Linked DNA regions of Homo sapiens: region 1 is linked to region 2. The links come from fine-mapping of genetic effects on gene expression. A gene starts in region 2. The other region holds a variant in brackets. All regions are shown on one strand. Distances are from middle to middle. Region 1 has its middle 7.3 kb from the start of ARMC9. Region 2 holds the start of HTR2B (5-hydroxytryptamine receptor 2B).

Region 1 (4,390 bases), 66 kb before region 2:
TATAATTTAAGACTTTCTTTGAATCCTGAACACTTGTGTAAGCATAATGCCAGTATTTAGGTGGAAAATCTCTGACTCAATCTCAGTCTGTTTAACTTATTCGATGTGTTCTCGTGGGAGTACAAAGGATACTTTTGTCACAAGAGGCAAAACTGCTTAGTTCTGAAGCTTCCTCCAGGCAGTCTCTAGGTTGGCTCTGCTGTGTATATTCCATGAGTTCATAGCAATACACTGAACCAGCTGCCTCAGCTTCCCCACTCTTAGGACCTGCCAAAGCATCCCATTTGCCCCAAATGTTCTTGTTTGACCACTCCAGTTTTCCCAAAATGGGATACATACTGCCAATGGGCCCAAGATGACTTTCTAAATTGTTTAATTATGAAAATTTCAAACATATGCAAAACCAGAGGATGGTTTAGTGAATCGCCATACACCCATCTCTCAGATTCTAGAATTATAATGACACTGGTGCTGGGAAAAACTTAACCTCAAATTAAATCCTTGGAATATGCTGAACACTTTAGCCAATATCTTCAGCCTTGCATAGGACATCGAAGGGACTGGTGGAGCTCTAGATTCTGGTGGGGGACACAGCTGATTCTTCTGCAGCCTAGAGCCCTCTGTGGGCCCTAGCCCTGAGTACTTTAGGGGCAGGAGGGTCACACTCCTCTGTGGCCTGCTACACACAGTTCATGAATGAAGTCATCTTTGCAGGCAAAGCAGGCATCTTTCTGGCTGCTGTCTTTGTTGGAAGGCAAAGAGCTGAGACCACAAGCAAAGAGGGAGAGTTGGTAAATGTTACTTTCCTGAGTTGCATAAAAGGGTGAAGCCACCTAAATTAAGCACACTGAGCCTGACCCACCCAGGCAGACCAGCGGCCAGCTAGACTAAACGCAGTTGCCTCATCCGGGAGCTCCTGCAGGGGGAGTTCAGACCAAGAGCATGTTTCTGGGCAGGCCCAGCGCCTGGATCTAATCAGTGGGATGGAGGAGGAACATACTGAAATGCCCGGCGTAAATCAAGAGATGAATTACAAGATGCTGCTTAAGCGAACATTTCCTTCCAGGAAAGTTGGATCTTGGTCGCTGCTCAAAACTCATGATGTGTGGGGTATGCAGGTCCATTCATCTTCCCAGCCCGGAGTCCATGTAGGGGTGGAGGAACAATTGTCTCCCAAAGGCTGCTTCTCCTCCCACTCCCCTTCCCAAAGCTGTTTATATCTGGAAGCTGAAGATTTCTTGGAAGGAGAGCACACCGGGTGGAAATATTCATCTCCCAAAAGAGCTCTCGGTGGGCGGTAAAGCAGGCGACCCCTGAAAGTCACTGAGCAGCCACTGTGGCCTCTAGTGTGTGTCCTTCCTCCCCTGTCCCAAGGATGTGAGCCGCATCACTGCCCCAATCGTTCTGTGGCCTGGAGGAGGTTGGCAGAAAAACTCAGGCCTCAAAATGAACATCTGGAAGAGCAAGCCTGGATTCCCAGGTGGTTTCCAAGCAGGCACACTTGGAGAGATTGCTAGGGCTTTCATCAGTGGTGTTCATAGACATACTCACTTAAGACTTTTCATGACGACTGTCACTTTCTTTTTTATTTTTTATTTTTTTTGAGATGGAGTCTGGCTCTGTCGCCCAGGCTAGAGTGCAGTGGCGCGATCTCGGCTCACTGCAAGCTCTGCCTCCCGGGTTCACGCCATTCTCCTGCCTCAGCCTCCCGAGTAGCTGGGACTACAGGCACACGCTGCCGTGCCGGCTAATTTTTTGTGTTTTTTCGTAGAGACGGGGTTTCACCATGTTAGCCAGGATGGTCTCGATCTCCTGACCTCGTGATCCGCCCGCCTCAGCCTCCCAAAGTACTGGGATTACAGGCATGAGCCACTGCGCCCGGCCGAGGACTGTCACTTTCTAAGCAAGTTTAAAAAAGCACATCACAGGGCACAGGATGTTAGCCCAGAGGGTGGCATGTTGGTTTAAGCTGGAGGAATAGATGCTAAAGTGACCACATTTGGGTAGTTTCCTGGCAGGTCAACACACCTGGGTGACCAGCAAGATGTGGCACACAGAGAACATCTTTTTTTTTTTTTTTTTTGAGATGGAGTTTCACTCTTGTCACCCAGGCTGGAGTGCAATGGTACAATCTCAGCTCACTGCAACCTCCGCCTCTCGGGGTCAAGAGATTCTCCTGCCTCAGCCTCCTGAGTAGCTGGGATTATAGGCACGTGCCACCACACCCAGCTAATTTTTGTATTTTTAGCAGAGAAGGGTTTTGACCATGTTGATCAGGCTGGTCTCGAACTCCTGACCTCGTGATCTGCCTGACTCTGTCTCAAAGAAAAAAAAAAAGAAAAGAAACGCAAATCTTCTGGCTCAGCAGTCTGGGTGCCTCTGCTGGAACTCAAGGGTCCTAGGCAGGGCCCCTGCAGCATCTGCGGCCAAGAAAGCCGAGCTGCGGGCCCACTGGGTACCCCAGCCAACTCCAAGGAGAGACCCGCGGCCAGTGCAGGCGGGGCAGCCCCCCCAGGGCCCTGCTCCGCGGAGGATAAATGTCTCAGCGGGAGCATCCGGCCGGCGGAGCAGCCC[G/A]GGAAGCGGCCCAGACGCAGCCAGACTGGCGTGGGGGCCAGTTCCCGATCTGGGTCCCGGCGGGGGGAGCGAGCCCGTCCCGCGGCCTCCAGCCAAGAGAAGCGAGCGAGGGGCTGCAGGGATTTTTACCCAGTGGCCTGACACTTAACGAAGGGTGGGTCACTGCAGTGATCTCCGGCGTGGGAAGGATTGGGGTTGGCTGCGGCGGGAGACTCAGGTAGAGTCTTGGGGAACAGCCAGCACAGCCCGACCTGGCCCCAGGTGCACCCCCACCTCCCTTAGGCCGTCATTTCCAGCAACACAGCGCCATCTCTGCCAGCCCAGCGGTCAGGACGGCGAGAGGCGCCCAGAAAACATACGCCCTGCAATGGAGAGTCAGTCCCCACCCGGGCGTCCTGGGTTCCCTGTTTTCCTCCCATCACCGACCCCCAAGCCGCCCCCTCTCAACACGCCCCGGCTTAGCCCCCAGCCCCTGACTGTGGAGCTGCCCTGGCCGGCCGGCAGCCCTGGCCCACCCGGGTCCCTTACTGCACGTTCTCTCTGGTCCGGCCCCTGGCCCTTTCCCTCCCTGCCTGAACTCCTTACAAAGGACAGATCAGAGCTGTCCGGTGTCTTAGGAAAGAAGAGATCCTTCACATTCAGTGATAGGAACTTGTCTCGAAACAGCTTAAGCCAAAAGGGCTTTCTTTGGCTCACATCCCTGAGAAGTCAGGGGTGGAGCTGGCCCCGCTGGGCAGGGCTGGAAGTAGGACTTTACAGTGCCCTCGGTCTTTGGGCTTCCGTCCCGCTCTCTCCCTCTCCGCTCCGCTTTCAGCCCTGTGTGGGACTGGGACTGCATGTCCGCTCTGCCTGGGTAACCTTGGGTCTGCTGAGAACCAGAGAGGAGCCACCAAGGCCTTCCAGGGTCTTCCCTGGAGGCTGGGAGCCTAGTCCTTACCCTGGCATGGCTGCACCCTCTTGACTTTCTAAAATGCCTCTGAGTGTATTGGATAAAGGATCCTTTTTGACTCGAGCTCTTCACACTGATCACTTGCAAGGCAGAGTCTGCACTCTTACAGGCTCCCTGGCAGAGCCAGCCTCCATCCCAGGCCTCCCTTCCTGCCCACGAAGCAGAGTTCTAAGCAGGAGGAAAGAACAAGTGGCTGAATCTCAGCTCCGGGGGCCCCCTCCTCCCTCCCTCCCTCCCTCTGTGAGCAGGGGCTCAGCCGTGTCCTCCTATTTCTCCAGGTCCTGGAAAGGGGCCCCGGGATCCTGGGGGAGGTGCTGAAGGAGGCAGTTGTGCTGAAGTTATGTGCAGTGTGGCGGCAGCTTGTCCAGGCTCAGACACTTCTAGTAAATGGAGTTAAGTCACCCACTCCCCTAGGTATTTGCGGCCCCTGCTTTGAATCAAGGCGTAGAAGCTATCCAGAAAAAGGTGACATGAGCCCTGCCCACCCTTTAGATTTAAGCAAACCCTATCTGAGGACTGGGGCTGTCCTGACAGAGGTTGGCCTGCAAGGGTCTGGGTGCATCTGGAGGCTGACACCTTGGGCACAGACCCAAGGGGCAGCATCATCAAATGGAGAGAGCTGAGGCTCAGAGAGCTGCTCCCTGGCCCGTCAGTGCCCAGCCGTCAGGATGAACGCATCGAGACAGTGCTCCCCATGTTGCGGGCGAAGACCTGGCAGCTGTCTTCCAGTCCCATAACTACAGGGGTGCAGCGGGTCCCAGCTCCCAGGAGGCGCACCAGAGTCCCATTTGGGAGCCAAAAATCTCTGGGATTCATCCTACTAGAGGCAAGAGAGTCCCTGGGACCAGCCAGGAAACATGTGGAGAG
Region 2 (4,390 bases):
AGAGTTCGAGACCATCCTGGTCAACATGGCGAAACCCCGTCTCTGCTAAAAATACAAAAATTAGCCAGGCGTGGTGGCAGGCGCCTGTAATCCCAGCTACTTGGGAGGCTGAGACAGGAGAATTGCTTGAACCTGGGAGGCAGAGGTTGCAGTGAGCTGAGATTGTGCCACTGCACTCCAGCCTGGGTGACAGAGGAAGGCTCTGTCTCAAAAAACAAAACAAAAACAAACACAAAAAAAGGTACAAGTCTCTACTTTGAGTAGACCTACATGTTTATACATTTAAATTCTTGTTTTTTTTTTTTTTGTTGTTGTTGTTGCTGTTTCAGTTGACCCTATTTGCTATTATCAAAGTGCTTGTCCACCTTTTAACTTGTTACTCAAATCTGGAGTAGGCAGGGAAACATGTTTATTAAAATTGTCTCACATGAATTTATCACTCAACATTCTTTTGTACTATCTACATCTACCACCATGTACAAATGTTATTTTCACTAAAGAAGGGGGAGAGGCAAAGTTTTGTGTGTGTGTATACGTCTGTGCGTGTGTGTGCGTGTATGTGTGTAAAGAGTAAAAAGATATGGAGTGGGGACTTAGAGGCTACTTTCTACTTAAAGTGCTTAGGGTTTTAGAGCACAGGTTTAGTTATTTGCTGAGACTCAACTATCCTTTTATATAATTATTTATTTATTATTATTTTGCTTTTTTCTTGATTCTCAGCTATGCTTCCCATAACTTGAGATTGCCAAATAAGTAGCTGTTCTAACTAGTTACGTTCCTTAGACATTAAACAGACTTAAAAAAGCAAAAATAAAAAAAATCAGAGTACCAATCTTACTTTTTATAAGTTGAGGCAAAAAATGAGTGAATGTGAGTGAAAGGATTAATACAGGCAAAATACAACAATGACTGCATTTTTATAATATACTTAATATTTAAAAAATTTTATCTATAAACAAATCAATAAAGGCTTATTTCATACAAGTCTTTTCACTGGATATAAAATGGTGCTGCTATTTTCAATCTGACATTACTTGTTTTGCAGATCCCTACCTGCCTTCATAAGCACAGATGTCAAAGTGTAACTCACAACTAAGCAGTATTTAAAAATAATTTCTTTTCCTCTTTTTTTTTTAATCTTGGAGACAAGATCTCATTCTGTCACCCCAAGCTGGAGCGCAGTGGTGTGATCTCAGCTCACTGCAGCCTCGACCTCCCCCAGGTTCATGCAATCCTCCTGCCTCAGGTCTCCCCTGACCCCTAACCCTCAACCCCTCCGCCGCCGCCCAGTAGCTGGGACTACGGGTGTGAACCACCACCCTTGGCTAATTTATGTGGTTTTTTTTGTAGAGATGGGGTTTTGCCATGTTGCCCAAGCTGGTCTCTTCTAGACTCAAGCAATCCACCTGTCTTGGTCTACCAAAGTGCTGGAATTACAGGAATGAGCCACCGCACCTTGCCTTAAAATATTTTCATATTCCTGAATAGAAATTCTGGTACATTAAAAAACATCTGATTTCTCTTGAATATTATTTCATCTAGAATTCTTCACAAGTATTTTTTCTAATATAGTAAATTTTGAGTTTTTAAAAAAGCAGCAAATACTGAATAAAATCTGAAGTGCTCAGCAGAGCTAAAATGAACTAAGTATTTTCCAATAACATTCAACATGAGCAAAGGAATACAAATTTGAAACAAGAAAAGGGCACAAATGTCATCACTGATTTATAAGTAATTAATTTTAAAATATGCATCTATAATGATCTTTTAAAAGGAAACCTTGAGAATGCTGAGGTTCTAATACTAAGCTAGTCTTATGGTTACAGAAAACTTAAATAGCATAACTATTAAGATTTAAACACCAATTTTCTGAAATAAGGCAAAAACGTATTTTCATTACTTGTATTTTCTCCAACGTAAAGTCTATGGGGAAAAAAAGCTGTGAACCACTCCTAAACCCAGAGATCATCTGTTTAAAAATAAGCAGTAAAAAAGTTTCTGCTAAAACCTATGTATACATGTAGAATTCAGGCCTTTCTGTGCTCTTCTATATAAGGTTGCAACCAGAGCAAATTAATGGTGTTCCACAGCAAAGGCACAAAAGCTAGATAAGAATCTTGTTTCACTGCTAGAAATCAGAACTGTAGAAATCACTATAGGCTTTTAAAACGGCAGAATCTTCAAAGAATGAAACCTCTAAAATAGCTAGATTATATCTTATTTTTTCTCAAATGTGAAAAACAGCTCAGGCTTAACCCCAAACAAAACTATCTGAAGCTAAAATGATCAAGTTTATTACAGTCCCCCCAAATATTAAAGAGAGCTCTTAAAAATATAACTTGAATAAGGGCCATGAACTGGTTCAACATGCTTAACAGTGGTTTTATGAATTACAATGAATGCTGCTACTCTCTAAAAATGAATGTATCAAAGAGGAAATAACCTCCTTGGCATGCTTGCAGCTATACAACGTATTTGTTTCACTGCTTTCAACCGCCTGTGCTGGAGGCTCAGAATAAGTCAATGGGAGGAGGATTTCAGTCACAGCAGCAAGCAAGTCTAGTGAACAGATAAGATGACATGCTCAGCAAAATAACAACGAAACCAGAGGTAAGCATTTAATAAACACATATGGAATTAATCTAAAGGTTTTTTTTTTTAATCTTCAAGAATTCTGCTATCATAATCTTTCATTTCTATTCAGCGGTTTAAAAATCAAAATGAAAAATTTACTAATGCTAAAGGAGAGTTTTTAAAAACGTGATTTGTACATTTGATGAACAAATAAATGGTCTAATCTTCCTTTTGGTTTCCCTTTCTTCTCAAGGCAACTGGGAAGGTTAAAAAAATAAACACTACTTAAAACAAAAAAAGAACTGGTTTGAATTTGGCAAATTTAGTGATTAAATTTAGAACACAATTGTTGCAAAGACATACCATGAGAGATGAAATTACTAAACACAATTATTTGGATCCTAGTAATACCTTTTTTTTTCCTTCTCTCAAACTAAAGGAAATCTAAAATGACATTTATATCAGTACTCACAAACCTGATAAGACAAAGCTAATTACATATAAGGATCCCTAGCTGGTAAAACATTTATTTAGACCCTTGTTGGGCTTTGAGTGTTTCTAGGTGGGTGGCCAGCGCATACTAAAAGTTCTATTCTGAACTATTGTGTTTCGACTTTTCTATTCTTCTGTAAGTAAAGGTAAAAAGACATTCAAGGGTCAGGAAACACCTAACTTTTTATTATAACCATTGAAAAAATTAATGTGTCTTCTGTTTCATTAACTGAGCAACATCAGAAATACAGTATATTTGGAGAATTGGCTGCATTGTCACAAATGCACAACAGACTTACTAAGAAGGGAAGGGCTATGAAGTTCAAGTGTTTTTACCACTTTCAGAAATGAATAAAATAATGCAGTCTATGTATTTTGTATCTAGGGGGAACTCTCTGGCATGCAAGTTCAAACACGACTCTACAACTACGGCAGAAAAAGAGAGAGAGAGAAACTAAAAATATATATATATCCTATTTTTTTCACAGCTATCAGTTTCTTTCACTGAGCTTTCCTAAATTTAAGCCTCTAGAAAATAATAAATACTTGGATATCTTACCTACAAACATGGACAGATGTGTGTATGCGCTCATTTTAGAGAACTTGAATTTTTTTTTTTAAAGGAAGGTGTCAACTTTGGCTTTTGAGTGTTTGGCATGGTTACAATGCCTTAAAAAAACAGATGAGCAGCTTAGCTACTAACCATGCTGACCACTGTTCGGAACGGGATTGAATCACAGAAAAACAGCAAATGGCTCTCTCTTACAGAGTGTCTGAACTTCAAAGCACAATTCCTGAGCACATTTTGCAGAGCACCTTTGTTCACGTTATCTCTTCTAACTGGTCTGGATTACAGACAGAATCAATACCAGAGGAAATGAAACAGATTGTTGAGGAACAGGGAAATAAACTGCACTGGGCAGCTCTTCTGATACTCATGGTGATAATACCCACAATTGGTGGAAATACCCTTGTTATTCTGGCTGTTTCACTGGAGAAGAAGCTGCAGTATGCTACTAATTACTTTCTAATGTCCTTGGCGGTGGCTGATTTGCTGGTTGGATTGTTTGTGATGCCAATTGCCCTCTTGACAATAATGTTTGGTAAGTATTTCACTTTGTTTGTGCCATCAAACCACAGAACTATGATATACTATTAGAGAATGGACACTCATTTAATCTTTACTTTTCTTGAAATAAAAGATGAACTTGGACTATTTAAAGATACGGCAAGTAAACAGTCCCTTGTTTTATATCATTCTCTATGGTTGATCAGCAGTTTTAAAGAGCAAAAAATATTTTTTGTAAACTATTTTTCTCCCTCC

Evidence for each region. PIP is the estimated chance that this variant, and not a neighbour inherited with it, causes the effect. A credible set is the group of variants that fine-mapping cannot tell apart.
Region 1: its variant is the best candidate, but not a certain one, in a credible set for the expression of HTR2B in lung (TOPMed, PIP 0.81).

Annotation. Positions count from the first base shown.
Region 1 is chr2:231,189,155-231,193,544 of GRCh38, reverse strand. No RefSeq gene overlaps it. Among named protein-coding and RNA genes, the nearest start is that of ARMC9, 7.3 kb to the left of the region's middle. RefSeq lists an enhancer at 1,156-2,036. The variant G/A (reference allele first, on the strand shown) is at 2,575.
Region 2 is chr2:231,123,192-231,127,581 of GRCh38, reverse strand. It overlaps HTR2B (5-hydroxytryptamine receptor 2B), which reads left to right and starts at 2,540. Exons shown (of 4, transcript NM_000867.5): 1 at 2,540-2,610; 2 at 3,452-4,169. The coding sequence starts at 3,818. All of the region lies in intron 16 of PSMD1 (proteasome 26S subunit, non-ATPase 1), which reads right to left.